2 separate regions of the Homo sapiens genome follow, and region 1 is linked to region 2. Evidence: fine-mapped expression QTL. Tissue or cell type: whole blood. Region 2 holds a variant in brackets; the other region holds the start of a gene. All regions are shown on one strand. Distances are between the middles of the regions.

Region 1 (5,125 bases), 37 kb before region 2:
TCTTGATCTGAATCCAGGTAACAGTCATTCCATTTGTGAAAACTTCATTGAACTGTACACTTACAACACATCCTCTTTTCCTCACTGCACAACACATCCTCTTTTCCTCACTACATACTATGCTTTACCATAATTTTTTTTTTTTTTTTTTTTTGAGACGGAGTCTCGCTCTGTCGCCCAGGCTGGAGCACAGTGGCGCGATCTCGGCTCACTGCAAGCTCCGCCTCCCCGGTTCAGGCCATTCTCCTGCCTCAGCCTCCTGAGTAGCTGGGACTACAGGAGCCCACCACCACACTCCGCTTTTTTTTTTTTCTCTCTCTTTAGTAGAGACAGGGTTTCACCATGTTAGCCAGGATGGTCTTGATCTCCTGACCTCGTGATCCGCCCTCGTCAGCCTCCCAAAGTGCTGGGATTACAGGCGTGAGCCACCGCGCCAGGCCACTTCACCATAAAATTTTTAAAAATAATTTTTAGGAGCTCTGTTACTGGTGGAGGGTGCCCAGGTTCTTGACATTTTGAACAAAGAATTGGACAAAACGTACAAAGCAAGGAAACAATGAAGCAACAAAAGCACAGATTTATTGTACATCAAAGAACACTCCTTGCGGTAGGAAGGGCCCAAGCAAGCAGCAATTACAGAATTTTCTGGGGTTTAAATACCTTCTAGAGGTTTCCCATTGGTTACCTGGTGTACACCCTATGTAAATGAAGTAGTGGCCAGCGATCAGTCTGATTGGTTGCAGGAGGGGACCAATCAGAGGCTGAAGTAAAGTTATGAAGTTATACCCCATGCAACTAAAGACTTGGCCTGCCACCAGCCTGACTGATTGCCCGCGGGGACCAGTCAGAGGTACTTTCAATTTTTTATCTGCCACCCAGAAGAGGGATTAGCTTCTGGTCCTTTTGTTACTTGGGCTAGAAAGTTGGGGTTTTCCTTTTGATTTAGTTCTAGGAAGTCAGCCTAAATCGGCCTTAGGTTCCCTGTCTCCAGACCCTATTTTCCTGCCTCGTAGCTTTTAGGAGATTAATGCCTGCCTGCAGACAACTTCCTCATTTAACTTTCACAACACCCCTGAGGCAGCAAGATCCTGGCGAGGCAGAGAGCCTCTCAAGCTTTTTTGGATGAATATTTTCCAAGTCTGAGTTTACATAGGTAAAGAAATGTAAGCAGTTTTTTTTTTGTTTTTTGTTTTGTTTTGTTTTGTTTTGTTTTGTTTTAACAGAAGTGGCTGCTGGAGTGGAGATGGGAATGGGTAGGACTTTAGCCGCTCCAGTAGCCATTAACGCCCCACCCTGGTTATCCTTAAAAAATTCGATTAAAAAAAAAGTTCTTAATATATAAACATGACCTCAGCCATCCTATATATACATCAACATAAGAAAAAGGTCCCGTGCTTTTTATGGGAACAGCTTCAAGACAGGTATCCCAGCCCCCGGCCCCTCCCCAGCCCCCTTGCAATCAGATCCTTGTCTTCTAAAACCTGCCACACCTAAGAGCGCTGCCTGAAGGCCGGTTTGGCCTGTTGACTCCTGGTTTTGACTGTTGGTGATTTAAGCGATTGGAACTGGAAGCACCATTTGACAACATTTTGTAAATCATTACTTCTGAGGTTGTTATGACGACGGGGTGTGGCAGTCCGGCTTCACCTGTGGCAGCAGCTTAGGTCCCTGCCCTCCTGCAGAGCACACTTCACCGACAGCAGGACTCAGGTTTTATACAAGTCTCTACTCGCCATTGCTTACGTCCAAGAACCCAGCCTACCAGGTTTAAACAATTTCCAGTCACATACCTGAGCCACCACCACCTTATCCTGAAGGGATTTTTGGGTATAATGCAAATCGATTGACCGAACATTTATTTACTTATTCAAGACACAAACTAAGAGATGGGGTGTAACTGATTATCTAATTTGTTAATTTAGTCAATAATATGCCAGCATTGTGCAGGGGAATTACAGGGAATAGGAAAAAGTTAAATTTGTGTAAATCATCAGATTGAGTCATTTTCCTACTTTAAAACTTCCATTTTCTTCCGATATTAAAATAAAAACCAGACAACAAGCACCTGGGGGGGGGGAAATCCCCTCTTAAAATTACAATTTCTATTTTTAATTTTGTCTTCAGTTATAAAATTTATTTTAAAGTTATACAAAAATGAAGTGGTTGGATTGTGGAATTACGTCTTTTAAAATGTTATTTGTCCAATGAACAAAAACCACTCGCACCGCAACTCCTTTTACTATCAAATTCTGCACCGTTGCAAAACTTCCTTCACTCAACGCTTCTTTACAAACATCGCGATAGCGGAGCGGTCTCTTGGGCGCACCCCGCCGCATGTTCAACCCCACCCACTTCCTGTCTGACGATCTCCTTACGTCAACGGTGCGCTGGAGCGAGTGAGCAGCGATACCTAGGGCGGAAGTGCTCTCGGCGGAAGTGATCGCTGTGTGAATCGTGGGTGGGATGGCCGCGGGCCGCCTCTTTCTAAGTCGGCTTCGAGCACCCTTCAGTTCCATGGCCAAGAGCCCACTCGAGGGCGTTTCCTCCTCCAGAGGCCTGCACGCGGGGCGCGGGCCCCGAAGGCTCTCCATCGAAGGCAACATTGGTAAGGGCCGGAAAGCGGCTGCCAAGCCTTGGCCTCCGCCACGCAGGCGACAGAGGCTGGGAAAGGAGCTGGGCCCGGAATGGCCTGCGTCTGATGCGGCCGGCCTCTTTTTCTGGGCTGCGAGGAGAGCCTTTCCCCTCGCAAAGTGCACTGTGTATCTTTGCCTCCTTGTTTTTAGGATATCGGGCCTCAGTACCCGCCCACAGGAACATATTTGTTGGGGCATAAAAGCCACGCAGTTAGTGGATAGGACAAGAATTGTATTAGCTGTTTGTAATAGATCGAAATTGAAGCGACAAGCGGGTGCAGTTTATTTGTTCTCCTAGATAGGGTTGCCATATTTAGCAGAAATTAAAAATAATATCCAGTTAAAATAGAATTTAAGATAACGAATAATTTTTAGTGTGTGTCCAATGCAATATTTGGGACATCCTTACAGCAAAACAACAACGAAATCACTCATTGAAAGTTCAAATTTAACTGTGTCCTGTATTTTATCTGGCAACCCTATTCGAAGAGAGTTCCTAAATTTCAGTCGTTCAAATACCACATTCACAATTTTTGCCCTGTGCCTGTGCTAGTTGCATAATAATTTCTTAAGGCTTTTCTTAGAAGAACCTCACTTTTTAAACTTAAAAACATGTATTAAATTAAAAATTATTTTGTTAAAAGAGTGAGATCCAGTATCTTGAATAAAAAGTAGTCAGAAAGCAAAATGAAGGCAAAGCATTTCGATTTAATATTAATAAATTCTGACTTGATACTTTTATCTACCAAGTCACTGAGCCCCTAAAAGGGGCTTAGCAAGTGTTGAGTACTGAAGACGTAGCAGCAAACTGAGAATTTCTTTTTTTATTCATTCAACAAATCACCTTTTGAGCCACTTCCATATGCCAGCACTGTTCTTGGCCTGGAGAATACAGCTGTGAATAGAACAAATAAAAATCTCTGCTCTCATGGAACTCAAGTAGGGAGAGATGGACAATAAACAACATAAATTAAGCAAGGTGAACAATATGTTAGAGAGTAATAAGTATGATGGAGAAAAATTAGGGATGAAGAATTGAGGGAAGTTTTTATTTTATTTTATTTGAGATGGAGTTTTGCTCTTGTTACCCAGGCTGGAGTGCAATGACACGATCTCGACTCACTGCAACCTCTGCCTCCCTGGTTCAAGCGATTCTCCTGCCTCAGCCTCCCGAATAGCTGGGATTAGGGGCACCCGCCACCACACCCAGTTAATTTTTGTTTTGTTAGTAGAGACAGGGTTTCACCATGTTGGCCAGGCTGGTCTCAAACTCCTAACCTCAGGTGATCCGCCTGCCTCGGCCTCCCAAAGTGCTGGGATTATAGGCGTTAGCCACTGCACCTGGCCGAAGTTGTCATTTTAAATAAAATAAGCAAGGCCTCACTGAGAAGGTGACATCTGAGCAAAAAACTGAAGATGAGGGAGCAAATCACGTGGATACCTGGGAGAAGAATCTTCTAGGCAGAGTGAAGAGCAATTGGAAAGGCCCTGAGGTGGAAAGTGTGTTCGGGGAATAGGAGGGAAATCGTTGTGACTGAAGTCGAGTGAGCAAGGATGGGAGGGAAATTAGGGCAAAAGCCCAAGGGGTGGCCAGATTTTATAGGCCTTATCATGGGTTTTTAATCTTACCGAGATGGGTAGCCATTGGAAGGTTTGAGGAGTCAAGTGACAGTTTTACTTAGATTATAAAAAGATCACTGTGGCTGATAACATTGAAAGTGAAGAGTGTTAAGTGGTATTGCAATAATTATAGTATTGTGAAAAGTGAAAGTGGTGAGACGTGATTGGATTCTAGTTATACGTTAACAAAAATTGAGTTACATTTTAAGTAAAATTTAACAGTGGAAGTGGTGAGAAATGATTGGGTTCTAGTTATATTTTAAGATAGGGCCAATTGGATTTGGTGACAGGTTGAATGCAGAGTGTAAGGTAAAGAGAGGGGCCAATGATGACTCCAATTATTTTGACTTGAGTACTTGAAAGATAGACTCCTGATTTTCTTTTATTTCCTCCTCTCCTTCTTCCTCCCCTCCCCTCGCTTCCCCTCCTTTGGTGTGGTCTTGCCCTGTTGCCAGGCTAGAATACAGTGATGCAATTGCATCTCACTGCAGCCTGCCTCCCAGGCTCAAGCCATCCTCCCACCTTAGCCTCTTGAGTAGCTGGATCCACAGGTGTTTGCCACTATGCGTGGCTAATTTTGTATATTTTTTGTAGAGACAGGGTCTCACTATATTTTCCAGGCTGGTCTTGATCTCCTGGGCTCAATTGATCCTCCTGCCTTGGCTTCCCAAAGTGCTGGGATTACAGAAGTGAGCCTTGGTTTTAAGCATGTTAGGTTTTTACATGCCTATTAATATCCAAGTAGAGGTGTTGAATAGGTAATTGGATATGTAAGTTCAGAATTAGGGTCTCCCCGGACTGGAGCTGTAAATGTAGGTGGTATTTAATGCCAGAGACTATGTGTTGATGGAAAGGACTGAGCCCTGAGCATG
Region 2 (5,207 bases):
TCCATCTCAATAAATAAATAAATAAAAACAAAAAATAAAGTATACAATTCAATAGTTTGTAGTATAGTAGTCATGGGGCTGTATAACCAATACCACAATTCCAGAACATTTTCATCACCCCAAAAAGAAAGCCCATACCCCATCTCCCCCAAGTTTCCCTGCTGCCAACTCCCAGCCCTAGGCAACAACCAGTCTACTTTTGTCTCTGTAGATTTGCCTATTCCTGCAATTTCATATGAATAGAATCATACTATGTTGTCTCCTGTAACTTTTTTTTTTAACTGAGCATAATGTTTTCAAAGTTCATCCAAGTGGTAACATGTATCAGTACTTCGTTCCTTTCTTCCCCCACAACAGTCTCACTGTGTTGCCCAGGCTGGAGTGCAGTGGTGCAGTCACAGCTCACTGCGGCCTTGAACTCCTGGGCTCAAGCCATCCTCCTACTTCAGCCTCCTGAGTAGTTGAGACTATAGGTGCACACCACCGCGCCCACTAATTATTTTATTTTTAGTAGAGACTGTCTCACTATGTTGCCCAGGCTGGTCTCCAACTTCTGGTGTCAAGTGATTCTCCTGCCTCAGCCTTCCAAAGTGCTAGGATTACAGATGTAAGCCACTACACTCTTCACCTAGTTTTAAAGCCTGAAAGTCTACAAATTCAGCATCTCTATTGGTAAATATTGCCTTTTAGAAAGTAAACGTTGGCTGGGCACTGTGGCTCAAGCCTGTAATCCCAGCACCTAGGGAGGCCGAGGCGGGCGGATAACTTGAAGTCAGGAGTTCGAGACCAGCCTGGCCAACAAGGTGAAACCCCATCTCTACTAAAAATCAGAAATTAGCTGAGCATGGTAGTGCAGGCCTATAGTCCCAGCTACTCGGGAGGCTGAGGCAGAAGAATTGCTTGAACTGGGAGGCAGAGGCTGCAGTGAGCCGAGATTGCACCACTGCCCCCTAGCCTGGGTGACAGAGCGAGATTCTGTCTCAAAAAAAAAAAAAGTAAATATCCTCTAGGATAGTGCGGGCCATCAACAGTGTAACCTAGGTGATATTTGTCATTTTCCAAATTTGTAGCCGAGATCATCTGTAGAGAGTAAACATATTAATGAGCAGCAGTAATTTTGAATCTTAAATTGTGGGGGAGGGACAAGTAGGTCTGGGTGGAGCCTGTAAGTGTGCAGATTAGGACCACAGGAAGGCAGGCTGAAACCTTGGGCACCGTGGGTTTTTAAAGTGGACGCTAGAGAGTGGAGGTCACACTAAAACGGTCCCTACTCTACACTCAGGCCAGTCTGGATGGCTGTTATTCTTGGTTTAGGCCAACTCCCAGCGTCAAAAAATTTGGATTAACACATAAGAAATAGCTGCATTTCTTTCTGGCTTACGATGTGGTAAAACCTGCTGTTCTGGAACCTGAATATTACCTTGATGGGTTTATAACAAGGATCAAGGTTGTGAAAGTTCTCAAACTCTCAGAAGGTGATAATTTCAAGTAAAAGAGATTGTTTGTTATATGCAAATACCAGAATCACAGAGGAAGTGATGCAACGAAATAACATGCACTTTAAAATTTTAATACTATTTAACCTTCTTCAGCCCTCACTTAAATAGCAGTTTACATTTTCTGAACCACTTTCTCCTTCATGGGTCTCTCCTGGCTCCCCTACATTTGATGCCTCCCCTTCTGCTTCCTGGGCTGCCATCTTTTTCTCTTTTCCTCGAAAGTGTTGGTGTCCCCAAGGTACCCTTGGCTCATTTCTGTCTTCGTCCACTCCCTCTGCGTGATCTTGGATTTGTTTTCTATCACTGCCATTATCAAATTACCACAAATGTAACAGCTTAAAGCAGCATACATTTATTATCTTACAGCTCTGGAGGTCAGAACTCTGACATGGGTCTCACTGGGACAAAATCAAGTTATCAACAGGGCTGCTTTTCTTTCTGGAGTTTCTAGAGGAGACTCCGTTTCTTTACCTTTTCTGTCTTCTAGAAGCTGCCCACATTCCTTGGCTTGTGGCCCCTTCATCTTCAAAGCCAGTAGTGTTGCATCTCTAACCACAGCCAGGAATCCTTCTCTGCTTTCAAGGACCCACGTGATTACACTGGCCCCCTCTGGGAAATCTAAGCTGCGGGGTGGGAGGGAGGCTGCTATTCTGCTTTCCGCAGATCTCAAACACTATCATGGCTCCTACTATTCTCATGGGGTGAAGACTTCTTATGAACTTGGAAATTTTATGGAAAATGTGAATCATATGCAAGAGGGAATGGTATCAAGCAC[C/G]CCTGTACCCCCATACCCACATTCTAGCCCAATCAGCCTAAGATCACCAGAAACGAACCTTGAGTTTGAGAAGGTCAGATTGCAATGAGGAAGACCACATACCAGAGGAACTGTGGGGCATCTCACCAAACAGGAAAATATACCGTTACAGGATTTTAAGGAAAACTAGAGTTTTGGTAAAATTGAATGAAGCATTGTTTGGATAGGTGCAAAGCAAAGCAGGACTGTGTATAAAGGAGTCTGTTCTGAACTGTTCGGTGAACTCAGGTTTGTTTCCCTAGAAAGTACAAAGTTAAGACAAACATGGAATTTGTGTTCAGAAGCTCCTTACGTGAAACTCTGAACCTGGCTTGGAAACCAAGACAACTTCTCTGTGTCAAAGTGACTTAGAATCTTCTGGCCAAAAAAAAAAAAAAAAGGAATTTTTACTGATAACATTTAACATTTCACACAGCAAAGTTTTTACTGATAACATTTAACATTTCACACAGCAAAGTTTCTGATAGTTCATGATTTTAAAGAACAAGGTTTCTCTATGAGTCAGAAAGCAGTAGTCACACAAGGAAAGGGGTCATTATGACACTTTACGGCTACAACGTGCTCGTGGGAGAAATACTGTTTCATGGTAACTTTTGTGACTGGCTTTAGCTGTGTAATGTCCTCCCAGCCTGTTGAGTCGCAGGGCAGCTTTTTACCTTCTTAGCATGAGCCAACTTCGACTTTCTCGCCAACTTCGACTTTCTCGCCAACTTCGACTTTCTCACCCACTTCGGTTATCTACTCAGAACCAATCTGGTTTCACCTACAGCCTACCCCCACTCTCATTATTCTGAAGCAAATCCCAAACAGGAGGATGTCTTTTAAAGCTAGAGCTATATCAAACTATGGATTTCACAACCCGGATCCCTTATGCTCAATGGGTACAAAACAGTTCTCCCCACCCGCATACCCACCACCAACCCTACCCCAACCCAGCCAGCAAAGCCATTTCCCCTGCTTCTCCATTCACCCCGTTGGCCACATTAAAAACCTTGGTGTTATCTTTGACCCCCCACTTACACTCATTCTCAACAAATTCTGCCTATTCATCTCTGAAATCTTTCAAATCTTCTCTGCACCTGTTTCTGTCTCTCTAGTTGAAGGTGTAGTGGAAATTGTGGTTGACTCCCCAGCATTCATCCCACCTCTCCTCCTCTTCCATAGCAGTCATATGGTCCCCATTGTAGCAGTGGCCATGCCTAGGAATGGCAGGAATGGCCCCTCCCCTGCCCCCCAATTACTACTACCAGTAATCATTTCTTCCCCAAGCCACATCAACTAAATGATGTATAAAAAAGAACAGTGGTTGCTAGGTCAGGTCACCTGCCCCACCCCTGCCACCAGAGAGCTGCCCCTCAGCCTCTCCTATGTGGAGGTATGAGAGCTACCATGTTTTTATAACCCTATCTCCCATCACTCCTACCATAAACCCCACGAGACCACCCATAGCTTCAGATGTGTTTTCCCACATGACAAAATGTTTCTCTCTCTCTCTTTCTCTCCCACCCCCCACCCACCACCCCAAGCTTTTACACTGGAAGAACTACTCACCCTGCCAGGCCCAAGCCCACCATTCCTCTCTCTGTGGAGCCCTTCCCTCACCCCACACCATGTCCAGTCTTTGTGCCCTTGAGCACCCTGTTTATTAAACTTCTGTCAAACGTGTCATACCTGAATGAAAGTTGTCTGGAGACATCTCTTTGATGTCCTTGGCCTTGACCTTCTTGACATAGACCATGTCTTGGTCATTTAGTACAATGCCTGGCATTTATTTATTTATTGCTGTTTCATGAGTGCCTAACATAGACTTTTAAATAAAGAAATTATTGACTGGAGACACGCTCCGCCCTTTCTCAGGTTCCTGGGTTATTTGTGAGCTCTATATTACGATCATCAATTGAGGAAGTCCCTTCTGTGTACTAAGCACTGAGAATATGCAAGAAATTTGGGGCCTGGACTCTACTCTTAAATTGTCAAAGGAGTTGATGATTATCAGATGCCTACTGTGTGCCAGCTACCCTACTGAACACTTTCTAAATGTTATTCAACCCTCTCAATAATCCTGTGAAGGAGGTTTAAGGTGCCAGTTTTTACCAGTGAGGAAACTGAAGCTCAGAGTTCAGTAACTCAACGAGAGTCCCACAGTAACTGACAGCGCTGGGACTCACACCTAGGTCCATCCTGACTCCAGAGCCTGTTCTCTGCATAACACCAAACCATTACATAAGGGAGATAAGACTAGATTTTCAGAAAAGAAGGCAAGCAAGCATTTCCTTGGCTGCCTGTCTGGATTTACCAGCCAAATTTTGTAGCCTGGGCAGGAAAACCTAGTTTGCCAGCACTGCTAGGTGGAGGCCACCAGGTGCATCTTAGCTGTGCCTTTGGCCCCTGGGTCCCTGAACAGGTGGAGAGATGTTTCTGGGGGGCTAGATTTTCTCTTCTCAGCAACTGCACCTTCATAAAGTGCCCTTCAGGCACTAGCCATTAGAATGTATGTGGAAGCTTGGTGAAGGTTCTGGAGTGTCTTTACAGATGCCTTCTACTCCACTTCCCAGCTCACCCTTTATGTTGCTATCAGATGATTTTCTTAAAACACCTTTATTTTTTTTAAATTTATTTTTATTTTTATTTTTTGAGACAGCGTTGCTCTGTCGCCCAGGCCAGAGTGCAGTGGCATGATCTCAGCTCGCTGCAACCTCCGCCCCCTGGGTTCAAGTGATTCTCCTGCCTCAGCCTCCCACGTAGCTGGGACTGCAGGTGCACACTACCATGCCTGGCTAATTTTTTTTTTTTTTTTTTTTTTGGTATTTTTAGTAAACACCACCATGTTGGCTAGGCTGGTCTCAAATTCCTGACCTCAAGTGATCCACGCACTTCAGCCTCCCAAAGTGCTG

The links. PIP is the estimated chance that this variant, and not a neighbour inherited with it, causes the effect.
Region 1: it holds the start of DGUOK, and the variant in region 2 is fine-mapped to the expression of DGUOK in whole blood (TOPMed, PIP above 0.99).

What each region holds. Positions count from the first base shown.
Region 1 is chr2:73,924,448-73,929,572 of GRCh38, forward strand. DGUOK (deoxyguanosine kinase) reads left to right here and starts at 2,433. Exons shown (of 7, transcript NM_080916.3): 1 at 2,433-2,605. The coding sequence starts at 2,464. RefSeq lists an enhancer at 2,465-2,734.
Region 2 is chr2:73,961,047-73,966,253 of GRCh38, forward strand. All of the region lies in intron 1 of DGUOK-AS1 (DGUOK antisense RNA 1), which reads right to left. Among named protein-coding and RNA genes, the nearest start is that of DGUOK-AS1, 18 kb to the right of the region's middle. The variant C/G (reference allele first, on the strand shown) is at 2,275.